Linked DNA regions of Homo sapiens: all the other regions are reported to be linked to region 3. The links are microRNA targets in miRTarBase. Many come from high-throughput screens and were not tested one by one. Region 3 holds a microRNA gene; each other region holds the end of a gene's coding sequence.

Region 1 (3,124 bases), not on the chromosome of region 3:
GAAATTAGCAACCAAAAATAATTTTAAATTGCCTACTCAGTGCTGTGACTGCTAACAATGTGGAATTCTTTTTAAAAACGAATTGCGTTCATTTTCCGTCTTTCCCTATGTTGTCTCTCCTCTCCTGTGTCCTTTCAGGTCCTGAGCTTATATAATACCATAAATCCAGAAGCATCTGCTTCTCCTTGCTGCGTGTCCCAAGATTTAGAACCTCTAACCATTCTCTACTACATTGGCAAAACACCCAAGATTGAACAGCTTTCTAATATGATTGTAAAGTCTTGCAAATGCAGCTAAAATTCTTGGAAAAGTGGCAAGACCAAAATGACAATGATGATGATAATGATGATGACGACGACAACGATGATGCTTGTAACAAGAAAACATAAGAGAGCCTTGGTTCATCAGTGTTAAAAAATTTTTGAAAAGGCGGTACTAGTTCAGACACTTTGGAAGTTTGTGTTCTGTTTGTTAAAACTGGCATCTGACACAAAAAAAGTTGAAGGCCTTATTCTACATTTCACCTACTTTGTAAGTGAGAGAGACAAGAAGCAAATTTTTTTTAAAGAAAAAAATAAACACTGGAAGAATTTATTAGTGTTAATTATGTGAACAACGACAACAACAACAACAACAACAAACAGGAAAATCCCATTAAGTGGAGTTGCTGTACGTACCGTTCCTATCCCGCGCCTCACTTGATTTTTCTGTATTGCTATGCAATAGGCACCCTTCCCATTCTTACTCTTAGAGTTAACAGTGAGTTATTTATTGTGTGTTACTATATAATGAACGTTTCATTGCCCTTGGAAAATAAAACAGGTGTATAAAGTGGAGACCAAATACTTTGCCAGAAACTCATGGATGGCTTAAGGAACTTGAACTCAAACGAGCCAGAAAAAAAGAGGTCATATTAATGGGATGAAAACCCAAGTGAGTTATTATATGACCGAGAAAGTCTGCATTAAGATAAAGACCCTGAAAACACATGTTATGTATCAGCTGCCTAAGGAAGCTTCTTGTAAGGTCCAAAAACTAAAAAGACTGTTAATAAAAGAAACTTTCAGTCAGAATAAGTCTGTAAGTTTTTTTTTTTCTTTTTAATTGTAAATGGTTCTTTGTCAGTTTAGTAAACCAGTGAAATGTTGAAATGTTTTGACATGTACTGGTCAAACTTCAGACCTTAAAATATTGCTGTATAGCTATGCTATAGGTTTTTTCCTTTGTTTTGGTATATGTAACCATACCTATATTATTAAAATAGATGGATATAGAAGCCAGCATAATTGAAAACACATCTGCAGATCTCTTTTGCAAACTATTAAATCAAAACATTAACTACTTTATGTGTAATGTGTAAATTTTTACCATATTTTTTATATTCTGTAATAATGTCAACTATGATTTAGATTGACTTAAATTTGGGCTCTTTTTAATGATCACTCACAAATGTATGTTTCTTTTAGCTGGCCAGTACTTTTGAGTAAAGCCCCTATAGTTTGACTTGCACTACAAATGCATTTTTTTTTTAATAACATTTGCCCTACTTGTGCTTTGTGTTTCTTTCATTATTATGACATAAGCTACCTGGGTCCACTTGTCTTTTCTTTTTTTTGTTTCACAGAAAAGATGGGTTCGAGTTCAGTGGTCTTCATCTTCCAAGCATCATTACTAACCAAGTCAGACGTTAACAAATTTTTATGTTAGGAAAAGGAGGAATGTTATAGATACATAGAAAATTGAAGTAAAATGTTTTCATTTTAGCAAGGATTTAGGGTTCTAACTAAAACTCAGAATCTTTATTGAGTTAAGAAAAGTTTCTCTACCTTGGTTTAATCAATATTTTTGTAAAATCCTATTGTTATTACAAAGAGGACACTTCATAGGAAACATCTTTTTCTTTAGTCAGGTTTTTAATATTCAGGGGGAAATTGAAAGATATATATTTTAGTCGATTTTTCAAAAGGGGAAAAAAGTCCAGGTCAGCATAAGTCATTTTGTGTATTTCACTGAAGTTATAAGGTTTTTATAAATGTTCTTTGAAGGGGAAAAGGCACAAGCCAATTTTTCCTATGATCAAAAAATTCTTTCTTTCCTCTGAGTGAGAGTTATCTATATCTGAGGCTAAAGTTTACCTTGCTTTAATAAATAATTTGCCACATCATTGCAGAAGAGGTATCCTCATGCTGGGGTTAATAGAATATGTCAGTTTATCACTTGTCGCTTATTTAGCTTTAAAATAAAAATTAATAGGCAAAGCAATGGAATATTTGCAGTTTCACCTAAAGAGCAGCATAAGGAGGCGGGAATCCAAAGTGAAGTTGTTTGATATGGTCTACTTCTTTTTTGGAATTTCCTGACCATTAATTAAAGAATTGGATTTGCAAGTTTGAAAACTGGAAAAGCAAGAGATGGGATGCCATAATAGTAAACAGCCCTTGTGTTGGATGTAACCCAATCCCAGATTTGAGTGTGTGTTGATTATTTTTTTGTCTTCCACTTTTCTATTATGTGTAAATCACTTTTATTTCTGCAGACATTTTCCTCTCAGATAGGATGACATTTTGTTTTGTATTATTTTGTCTTTCCTCATGAATGCACTGATAATATTTTAAATGCTCTATTTTAAGATCTCTTGAATCTGTTTTTTTTTTTTTTAATTTGGGGGTTCTGTAAGGTCTTTATTTCCCATAAGTAAATATTGCCATGGGAGGGGGGTGGAGGTGGCAAGGAAGGGGTGAAGTGCTAGTATGCAAGTGGGCAGCAATTATTTTTGTGTTAATCAGCAGTACAATTTGATCGTTGGCATGGTTAAAAAATGGAATATAAGATTAGCTGTTTTGTATTTTGATGACCAATTACGCTGTATTTTAACACGATGTATGTCTGTTTTTGTGGTGCTCTAGTGGTAAATAAATTATTTCGATGATATGTGGATGTCTTTTTCCTATCAGTACCATCATCGAGTCTAGAAAACACCTGTGATGCAATAAGACTATCTCAAGCTGGAAAAGTCATACCACCTTTCCGATTGCCCTCTGTGCTTTCTCCCTTAAGGACAGTCACTTCAGAAGTCATGCTTTAAAGCACAAGAGTCAGGCCATATCCATCAAGGATAGAAGAA
Region 2 (3,131 bases), not on the chromosome of region 3:
CTGAGGGCACCGGTGCCCGCAGGCTGGCAGCCGCCAGCCCTGCACCCACAGCCCCCGAGACCTTCCCATACGAGACAGCCGTGGCCAAGTGCAAGGAGAAGCTGCCGGTGGAGGACCTGTACTACCAGGCCTGCGTCTTCGACCTCCTCACCACGGGCGACGTGAACTTCACACTGGCCGCCTACTACGCGTTGGAGGATGTCAAGATGCTCCACTCCAACAAAGACAAACTGCACCTGTATGAGAGGACTCGGGACCTGCCAGGCAGGGCGGCTGCGGGGCTGCCCCTGGCCCCCCGGCCCCTCCTGGGCGCCCTCGTCCCGCTCCTGGCCCTGCTCCCTGTGTTCTGCTAGACGCGTAGATGTGGAGGGAGGCGCGGGCTCCGTCCTCTCGGCTTCCCCATGTGTGGGCTGGGACCGCCCACGGGGTGCAGATCTCCTGGCGTGTCCACCATGGCCCCGCAGAACGCCAGGGACCGCCTGCTGCCAAGGGCTCAGGCACGGACCCCTCCCCTTCTAGTGCACGTGACAAGGTTGTGGTGACTGGTGCCATGATGTTTGACAGTAGAGCTGTGTGAGAGGGAGAGCAGCTCCCCTCGCCCCGCCCCTGCAGTGTGAATGTGTGAAACATCCCCTCAGGCTGAAGCCCCCCACCCCCACCAGAGACACACTGGGAACCGTCAGAGTCAGCTCCTTCCCCCTCGCAATGCACTGAAAGGCCCGGCCGACTGCTGCTCGCCGATCCGTGGGGCCCCCTGTGCCCGCCACACGCACGCACACACTCTTACACGAGAGCACACTCGATCCCCCTAGGCCAGCGGGGACACCCCAGCCACACAGGGAGGCATCCTTGGGGCTTGGCCCCAGGCAGGGCAACCCCGGGGCGCTGCTTGGCACCTTAGCAGACTGCTGGAACCTTTTGGCCAGTAGGTCGTGCCCGCCTGGTGCCTTCTGGCCTGTGGCCTCCCTGCCCATGTTCACCTGGCTGCTGTGGGTACCAGTGCAGGTCCCGGTTTTCAGGCACCTGCTCAGCTGCCCGTCTCTGGCCTGGGCCCCTGCCCCTTCCACCCTGTGCTTAGAAAGTCGAAGTGCTTGGTTCTAAATGTCTAAACAGAGAAGAGATCCTTGACTTCTGTTCCTCTCTCTCCTGCAGATGCAAGAGCTCCTGGGCAGGGGTGCCTGGGCCCCAGGGTGTGGCAGGAGACCCAGTGGATGGGGCCAGCTGGCCTGCCCTGATCCTCTGCTTCCTCCTCACAACCCCAAGAGCCCCCAGCCCGGTCCATCCACGTCTGGAGTCTGGGGAGAGGAGCAGGGTCTTAGGACTCTCAGCTCTGAGCATCCCTGGCAGGGTCTTCAACCTCTAATCTCTTCCCTTAAGCCCTGTGGCCACACAGCCAGGAGAGACTTGCCGCTGGCTCCCGCCTCATTTCAGCCCAGGGTGCTCATCCAGGGGCCCAGAACAGTCCCACCTGTGCTGCTGTGCCCACAGCACAAAGCCAGGCTTCACTCCCAAAAGTGCAGCCAGGCCCTGGAGGGTGATCCTGCCAGCAGCCCTACAGCTCCACACCCTACCCACCCATCGGCAGCCCCTCTGCTGTTCCCCAGGGACCTCTCATACACTGGCCAGGAGGCTGCAGAACGTGTGTCTCCCCCTCCCTCCAAGAGGTCCTGCTCCCTCTGCCAGAACCGTGTGTGGGCGGGTGGGAGGGCGCTCGGGGCCCGGCCCCTCCCTCTCCCTGCTGGTTTTAGTTGGTCCCTATGTTGGAAGTAAAAAGTGAAGCACTTTATTTTGGTTGTGTTTGCTCACGTTCTGCTTGGAAGTGGGGACCCCTCACTGCGTCCACGTGTCTGCGACCTGTGTGGAGTGTCACCGCGTGTACATACTGTAAATTATTTATTAATGGCTAAATGCAAGTAAAGTTTGGTTTTTTTGTTATTTTCTTTTAGACGTGTTGGAGTTTGTTTTCTGAACAGACTTTGGCTCCCTTGAGGCGGGTGGAGGATGGACTTTGGTGGTGGGATCCCCTGCAGCAAGTGTGTGTGTGTGCGCGCATGTGTGTGTGCGCGCATGTGTGTATGCATGCCTGTGTGTGTGCGTGCCTGTGTGCGTGCATGTACGCATGTGTGCGCATGCCTGTGTGTGCGCCCATGCCTATGTGTGTGCATGTAGGCATGTGTGTGCGCATGTGTATGTGCGTGAGAATGGTGTGAAGGCGGATAGAAGATGCAGCAGTTTAACAGCCACCACACATTGCTTTTGTAAAGTCACTTTTCCTCCTCACGATGAGCTGTCTTTGGAGCTTGGCAGGCCCAGATCCTCTTGTTCTAGTGACAGTGGAACACAGTCAGGGAGACAGGTGACTATGTGGTGGAGAGACATATGGTGCCCTCTGGGATGAGATGGGTGGGATAGCCTGAGATCTGGGATGACTCCCTCTCAGCCACTGCTATCAGCCTGGAGCCCCAGCTGTTGGGACTGCCTGCCACCCTCCCTGCCAGTGCCCATCTTCTCATAGCCCGGGCGGAGCAGTGGTGCTGCAGGAGGCTGCTGTCCACGTCACTGTGGGACCAGGTTTATTGGCAGCTGTGATCACATTTCATCTGTACAAACTACCCAGTGAATCAGGAAGAAATTCAGGCCCATTTTGCCGATGAAACAGACTCTGAGATTAACTGACTTGCCTAGGGCTCCTTAGCAACGGGAAGGACAACCTGTGCACCTAGGTTAGTATTGTCCTGAAGCCCCTTCTCTTCAAACTAAATGCCATGAGGCAGAATAGCAGCACAGTTAAGCCAGCCTACATCCTGGCTTCTCCACCTCCCCAGCAGTGTGACCATGGGCAAGTCACTTCACCTCTCTGAGCCTGCATGCTGTTCTCTGGAAGATGGGGGGGTGCCTGTCCCATACAGTTGTTTGGAGAGTCAGGAGTTCATTCCTGTAAATTGCTTAGGAGAGGGCGGGGCACACATGGCTTGTCTGGTCGTGGGGAGGGAGGGGGTGGTATTATCCCAAAGCAAGATAAATCAGTTAAGGGGAGAAGGAAAGGGGCGATACAGACCCTGGACTCTTGGGAGAGGTGAACCTGCAGGCTAGCAAGGGGAGGAGTCCCAAGAGTGGCCAAGTTCATTAAT
Region 3 (3,131 bases):
CAAAGCTAACATGGACAAAAGTCAGGCCAACTGCAGGACGGGGTATGTCCCTTCCTGGCCTCCCAGGCCCAAACCTGCCTCCCTGACCCCAAAACACACCTGACTGCCTACCACACACCTGACTCCCCTGTGTTGGCTCCCACATGCCCCCAAAACAGGGACAACAGTATGGGCAGGACGCCTGCAAAGGACTACTCTACACGTGGCCTGCAGAGGCAGGGAGCCTGTGGGAAAATGCCTCTTGAATGGGTTTTTACACGACCTGGCAAGGGGTGGGCCAACCTGGCCGTGATGGTTCCTCCCTCTCACCCTCCCTCCTCCCAGCTCCTAAAAACCTCTCCTGTTTTCCAAAGCCAAGTAAGACAGGGACCAGACGTTCCCTATTTTGTCAACCAGTTCTTCACACAGTTCAAGTCACCTCACTGCATGTCCCCAGATGTTTTTCCACGGCCAAGAGCCAAAAACACAACACAAACAAAGGACAAATAACCAAAGTTCCAACACCAGGCAAACCCGAGGTTTCAGGGGTTGGTGGGTTTTTGTTTTCGGGGAGTAGAAGCAAACGCACTAGAGGAATAGATAAGAGACTTTAAAGGAGAGTTTAAGGAATTCCAGCAAAAAACTTGAAGAGGACTAGAGTGGGTCCACATTATGTTGCATCGGTCAGGGAACAAAAGACCGGCCATTGGGAACACATCCACAAAGATCCATCTTTAATGAAATGGTGTTTGGGAGAGGAACAGGGGCTTCCTGCGCCACCGGGCCAAACCTCCGCTTCCCACCTCCCCAGGGGCAATTCTAGAAGTCAGGCCCCGTTCTCCCCACCCCCAAGCTCAAGGTTGCCGCCCTGGAAAGCACAGCAGGGCAGGCCTCGGTAAGTGGCAGGGCTTGGCCCATGGGTAAGCCGGGTCCCGTCTGTCCACTCAACCCAGGTCGCCGGGGCGCGGTCCACGTCTGCCCAAAGGGTACGGACCCCAAGCAGTGACCGACTCACACTTCCGAGAGCGTCGCTATTTCTCCAGCGAAGTGCGGGGATTTCCCGAATCACCGCACGCAGCCGGGGCGAGCGCACCTCACCACTCCTTCTCCAGCGTGGACCTGAGAGGCAGCCTGGCCGGAGCGCACGCCAGCCCGGGAGGAAGCCGGCCTGGGGCGAGGACCGGGGAGAAGACGCTGGTCCCGGGGGCCGAGAACTGGGACTTTGTAGGCCAGTTGATCCGACACCCTCATCTCGCCCGCAAAGACCCAGCCCTCAGCTCCCATCCTCGGAGTTCGGGGTGCGTCCCCGACGGGCTTCCCGGGGCTGGGTCCGGTCGCCGGCTCTGTGCACCGCGCTCCGCTCCGCCGAAGCTCTGGGTGTCCCTCAGGCGGCGTTCCCCGGGAAAGTCCACCGCCCCGCCCGACCTCGGGTCGCGGGCTCCAAACCCAGCCCTCCAAGGGTTACACGACGCTCGGCGGCCTCCACGCCACCCCCGGGCCGCCTCGGCTCAGGCCGAGGGACAGCGCTGGGGGAGGGGGAGGTGCGGGGACCAAAGCCTCCCCACCGCAGCCCCACTCCCGAGTGGGGCGCAAGAGTTATGCGCCGAGAAACTTCGCCACGCTCCCACGCCGCGCCTGCGAGGCCCAGCTCCGCTCTGCCTCGGTTACCTGCGCTCAGCTCGGCGGGCGAGGGGCGCGGGGCGCGGGGCAGGAGCCGTGGCCGACCTCTCGCAGCAGGCCGCACCCTCCCGCAAGGCCGAGCCCGCACCGCTGCCTGGGCACGGGGGCCATAGCCGCTAGCCGGGGCCCGCGCCCCGACGTTCCGGGAGCCCCTCGAACTCCTGGCCGGGGGCCGTGGCCTCGCTCGACCTGCCCGGGACCTGGGGGCCGCCGCCGCCCCCTCCGCTAGGAGAGCGAGCCCGACGAAGCCGGGAGAGGAGCGGGGCGGCGAGACCCCTCGAAAGTTGGGGGGGTCGGCTTGCTCGCCGCGGCCCGACCTGGCTCCACGTGCTGGTGACACATCAGGAAGGCTGCGCGCCCCGCGGCTCCCGGCGGGCGGACGCGGCCAGCGCCCGCCCGCACCGCCTCCCGGAGCCGAGCGGACGGCGCCCCGCCCCGGCCCGCCCTTCGCCCGCCCCTAGGCGGCACCGCCCCCGGCCGCGACGCCCGCTCCAGCCTGCGGCACCGGCGGGAGAGACCCTGACGGCGGTGGGGGGTGGCCCGGGTTCCCAGGTCCCGGGTGGCCCGCACTGCCCCGGGGATGGGGTCCCGACGCGGGCGGCCCTACTCGACAGTCTGGAGTGCCTTCCTCCCAGTCACGCAGTCCTTCCCGCCCCGGAGCCCAGTAATTTTCCCTTTTCCTCCTTTGACCCGTCCGAGCAGCTGCCAGCGCTTCCTCCCGCGGAGACCGGCGCGGGGAGCCCCCTGCCGGCCGCTCCGCTCCCGGGCCGCGCCCCCGCCCGGTGGAGCGCGCCTGCCGCCGGCCTCAACTTCCCCATCTAGAACCTGGAGCCGCCGGGCACTTCTGGCAGGGCTTTGGTGGCAAAGATTATAAATTAAAGTGCCAAGCATAGTACCGGGCAGCATACTTTCTTGAGATGTTAAAATTTCGTGCTTTCAACTCCCAGTTCCAGCGGCCTGCAGACAACCTCTCTTCCTGGCTGTGCTGTTTGAAAAGCTGAGTTCCTTTAGGGAGACTGTGGAAAAGGAGTGGGACAGAAAAGCTTTGAGGCTGAGTAAGAGCTGTCCCAAGATTAGCGAGGGGTGGGAGGTCAGTGGAATCCCCTTGGTGGAGACCTGCTGCCCCACTGTCTCTCCGGAGACGCCAGGATGTGGGAGAGTAACTGCGTGTCTCCTCTGGGACCTGAACCAGGCCTCTACCAAGATCCCCAGCCTCAAGATGGCCAGGATTCCAGGCACCGTGGGTGATGGGGAAGCCCAAATAACCACTGAGGTTGAGTTTCCCAACCTCTTCAGGTCGAGATTTGGAGCCATTTAAAGAAAATAACGTGACATATCTGTTTGTGTCCCGACATAGATATTAGCTATGTTCCTGCCTTCTCTTTCCTGGCCTCACCAACCCAGATCATGCCTTTAAATCTCACTATGAGGCTGGGCACGGTGGCGCACACCTGTAATCCCAGCACTTTGGG
Region 4 (3,131 bases), not on the chromosome of region 3:
CAAGGGGTTTAAGGAGTATGAAAACCATCGTTGGTTATTCCAAATCTGAACTTCATAGGATCAAACAAGATGAGTATGTTAGCTCTGTCTGGCTCAAACCATCCTTTAGTAAACATACCATTCTCAACAAAATTCAGGCTTTTTGGAACACTGACTATGGTTAGGTTTACGCCATGGTGGTAGCTTGTAGAGTGGTGTTGGAAGCTCGATCCAGATGCTGGTTTCTGTAGGTACCTTCTGCCCAATCACCAATCTTCATGTAGAAACAACCTAGAAATAATCACCCAGAGGCAAGTGCATGTCAAAACTGAGAAATTCGGATGCAGAATTTCAAATTTTCAGTTCTAAAATGTCAACTCAATTAAACATGCTATACTAAAAGAAGAGCCAAGTAGAGAATATCCCTAGGTAAAGCTTAAGAAGAGGAAATGGCTAGAAACCATGAAATTACTACATAAAAAACAAAACAAAACAAAAAAAAACACAAGGTAAGTTTCCCATGTCTTTGATTACTTGTTATCTCAGTACATGAAATGCACGATTTTGCTAATGGTTAAAACTTCACTAATTCTATCTATGCCTACCAGTATTTCTTATTATTTCTAATAAGCATCTAAAACTGACAATTCTTTATTGAAATCAAGAAAACAAAAAATAGAAACCATAAATTTAGTAGCTAAAAGAGACAGTATGCTACCATGAATTGTTTGTCATATGCATTTAACTCAGTGACTACTTTTGGGACCAAAATATACCCAAGTTAATACAGGAATTTAGTTTACACATCAATAGAGATAAAATAAATTCCAGAATTGTTATCTATTCTTTCCACAAGAAAAATCTATTTCTTCCTAATCATACTAACTATAATTGCTAATGTCTTTATTTTTAAATAATCAAAAACCAAAAAGCCAAACAACAACAACAAAAACCTCAAACACATGAAAATCATGACCAAACCAAACTTAAATACTTTTCAGCTACTAGGGAAAAGCAATACAAGTAATTGAGCTAAAGGAAGTTATCCTTTATGAATTCCAAATTTAGAGAAGATATGTTGTATTCCCATAATAACTAACTATAAATACAAAGAAGGAAGAGAATACATTATTAAAACTTTGAGCCCAATTCTATTTAAGTTGGGAGTTTATTAGCAGAAATTCTAATGAATATAATAACTGGAAATATAATTTGGGGCTATAAAAAGCTCTGTACCAAAGTTAACTTTCATCTTATTCTATAATCACATTTAGTCTGAAAGCTTAGGCTAAGGGCTTAAAGGGTTCTCATTGTATAACTTATGATTTTTCTATAAAATATCACTTTAAGTAAAATAAATTAGTAAGGTTTGGCCTGTACAGTATCTATGACATTTCAAAATCTCACCGAATGTTGATTCTAGGCAGTAACTTAAGAAAGTAAAAATCCTTAAAAATTCCAAAATGATAGGAAAATCAGGCTGGATGCATTTCAACTGCGGTGAAAAGGTTAATGGGATTTTAAACTATGAAGTCTACTTTTCCCCTACAGACCCAGTATTTATTTCCTTAAGACTATTTTGGAGCCAATCAACATCATAAATAAAAGATTATTATTCCCACCTTTATGATTTAATGAATCAATAATGTTTTCCTAGCCAAGAACACAGGTAACCTACATAACGTCAGACATCTAAAGCTAGTACAGAAATCATCTAAAGGCTTTGAAATATTTGACCTGATGGCTTTAAGCATTTGTAAATTAATGGCTTTTGGGAGGAAGGAAGAACTAAGGCACTCAAAGATACCACAACATCTTACAATCTATAATGAAAGGAAAAAACTACTAATACTAGTTCTTGAAACTCACAAGTTATAATGTAGAACAAATGTCATTTTAGTTGATTTTCAATGTTTATACATGTGATATAAATTACATGTATGACAACACTAATCCAAAAGAAAATAATGATGTACAAAATGTTTATGATAAGTAAAATTATTGCATTTAATGTCATTTTCATGAAATGAAAATCATCAAATTCCTTAATGTTGTATCAAACGTAAACAATACCAGTTCAAATTAGAGGGAATGTATGTCAACACCAACTTTTGACAAAAATAAGAAAGCTAAAGCCCTACAATTTATCTAATTTAGGTCAGGTAACCATGGAAACAAAAGAATATTAAAATTATTTATTTTATCATTATGCACATTGAAGGAAATCATAACAGACAGTACAGTTCTTTTCCACCATAAAATTATATACACCCATTTATTTAGCTAGAAACACTAGCTTGAGAGGTACTGATATATTCCATTTGTGATACTTTCTGTACAGCAAACAAATGTCTTATATTTGGAGCATGTTGAAGAAAACATTGTCTCAAGTCTTTTTTGTTTTTTTGAGTCTCAATCACTAAGAGTTCAAGGTACTTTGGGAGAATCGTGGTGTCCTGGATGGCCTGATCAATGTATTAAAATCAAGCAGTATGTCTTCTTAAAATACTCTTAAATCCATACAAATGTTGCTTGGGTTGTGGAGCTGAGATTTCTCCTACTGGCATGATAAAATTTGAACATGTGTTATGAAAGTTTCACACCAATTTTGTTTTGTTCCTTCTTCATTAGCCGTTGTGCTTCCTTTTCCATTTTCTTCCTTTGTTGTTCGGCTGCTCTCTTTTCTCTGTCTGCTAGTTTCTGCTGTCTGAAAAGAAACATACTTTTACTTTTAGAAAATACCAAACAGGTAAAATGGCAAATAAATTCTAGAAAGAAATAGCAGTGCCTTTTTATTATCACCAAATAAAATGTTGAAAGTCTTAAAATTTTCTCACTAATTTGAAAATTCCAAATATTTTCAAAAACAGGATTTCTCTTAGTCCTTAGAACGTGACTTGTGAAATAGAAGAAATATTATCTCTATTTTACAAATAAGTAAAATGAGGCATAAAGGCTAAGTGACTTGCCCGAAGTCATAGGATTAAGTACAGGGATAAGAACTCACATCTTCTGACACTTCTTATTTAGATTATCTCCATTTTGTAAAACAATACTTCCATTGAACCACATCTTTTTCTGGGGATACCATTCAGAAAAGCTTGATATTGAGCTTGATAATCTCCTGTTATTATAGTAGTTACAAACAGCCA

What was found. The annotated mature microRNA hsa-miR-193a-3p reads AACUGGCCUACAAAGUCCCAGU and lies in region 3 at 1,193-1,214, opposite strand. An mRNA with a match to its seed (bases 2 to 7 or 8) in the 3' UTR can be bound and repressed. Matches are read on the target gene's strand: a 7mer-m8 pairs with bases 2 to 8, a 7mer-A1 pairs with bases 2 to 7 and ends in A, and an 8mer does both.
Region 1: miRTarBase lists TGFB2 as a target of hsa-miR-193a-3p. Seed matches in the 3' UTR shown: 8mer at 1,469-1,476.
Region 2: the mRNA of RGMA is a reported target of hsa-miR-193a-3p. Seed matches in the 3' UTR shown: 8mer at 921-928.
Region 4: miRTarBase lists EBAG9 as a target of hsa-miR-193a-3p. Seed matches in the 3' UTR shown: 7mer-A1 at 2,538-2,544.

The regions. Positions count from the first base shown.
Region 1 is chr1:218,441,066-218,444,189 of GRCh38, forward strand. TGFB2 (transforming growth factor beta 2) reads left to right here. Exons shown (of 7, transcript NM_003238.6): 7 at 139-3,124. The coding sequence ends at 297. It overlaps TGFB2-OT1 (TGFB2 overlapping transcript 1), which reads left to right and starts at 1,561. Exons shown (of 1, transcript NR_125715.1): 1 at 1,561-2,930.
Region 2 is chr15:93,042,220-93,045,350 of GRCh38, reverse strand. It overlaps RGMA (repulsive guidance molecule BMP co-receptor a), which reads left to right. Exons shown (of 4, transcript NM_020211.3): 4 at 1-3,131. The coding sequence ends at 353. Among named protein-coding and RNA genes, the nearest start is that of RGMA, 45 kb to the left of the region's middle.
Region 3 is chr17:31,558,133-31,561,263 of GRCh38, reverse strand. It overlaps MIR193A (microRNA 193a), which reads right to left and starts at 1,268; the gene lies at 1,181-1,268. RefSeq lists an enhancer at 1,465-2,255 and a silencer at 1,997-2,486.
Region 4 is chr8:109,563,994-109,567,124 of GRCh38, reverse strand. It overlaps EBAG9 (estrogen receptor binding site associated antigen 9), which reads right to left. Exons shown (of 7, transcript NM_004215.5): 7 at 1,129-2,686. The coding sequence ends at 2,566. Among named protein-coding and RNA genes, the nearest start is that of EBAG9, 25 kb to the right of the region's middle.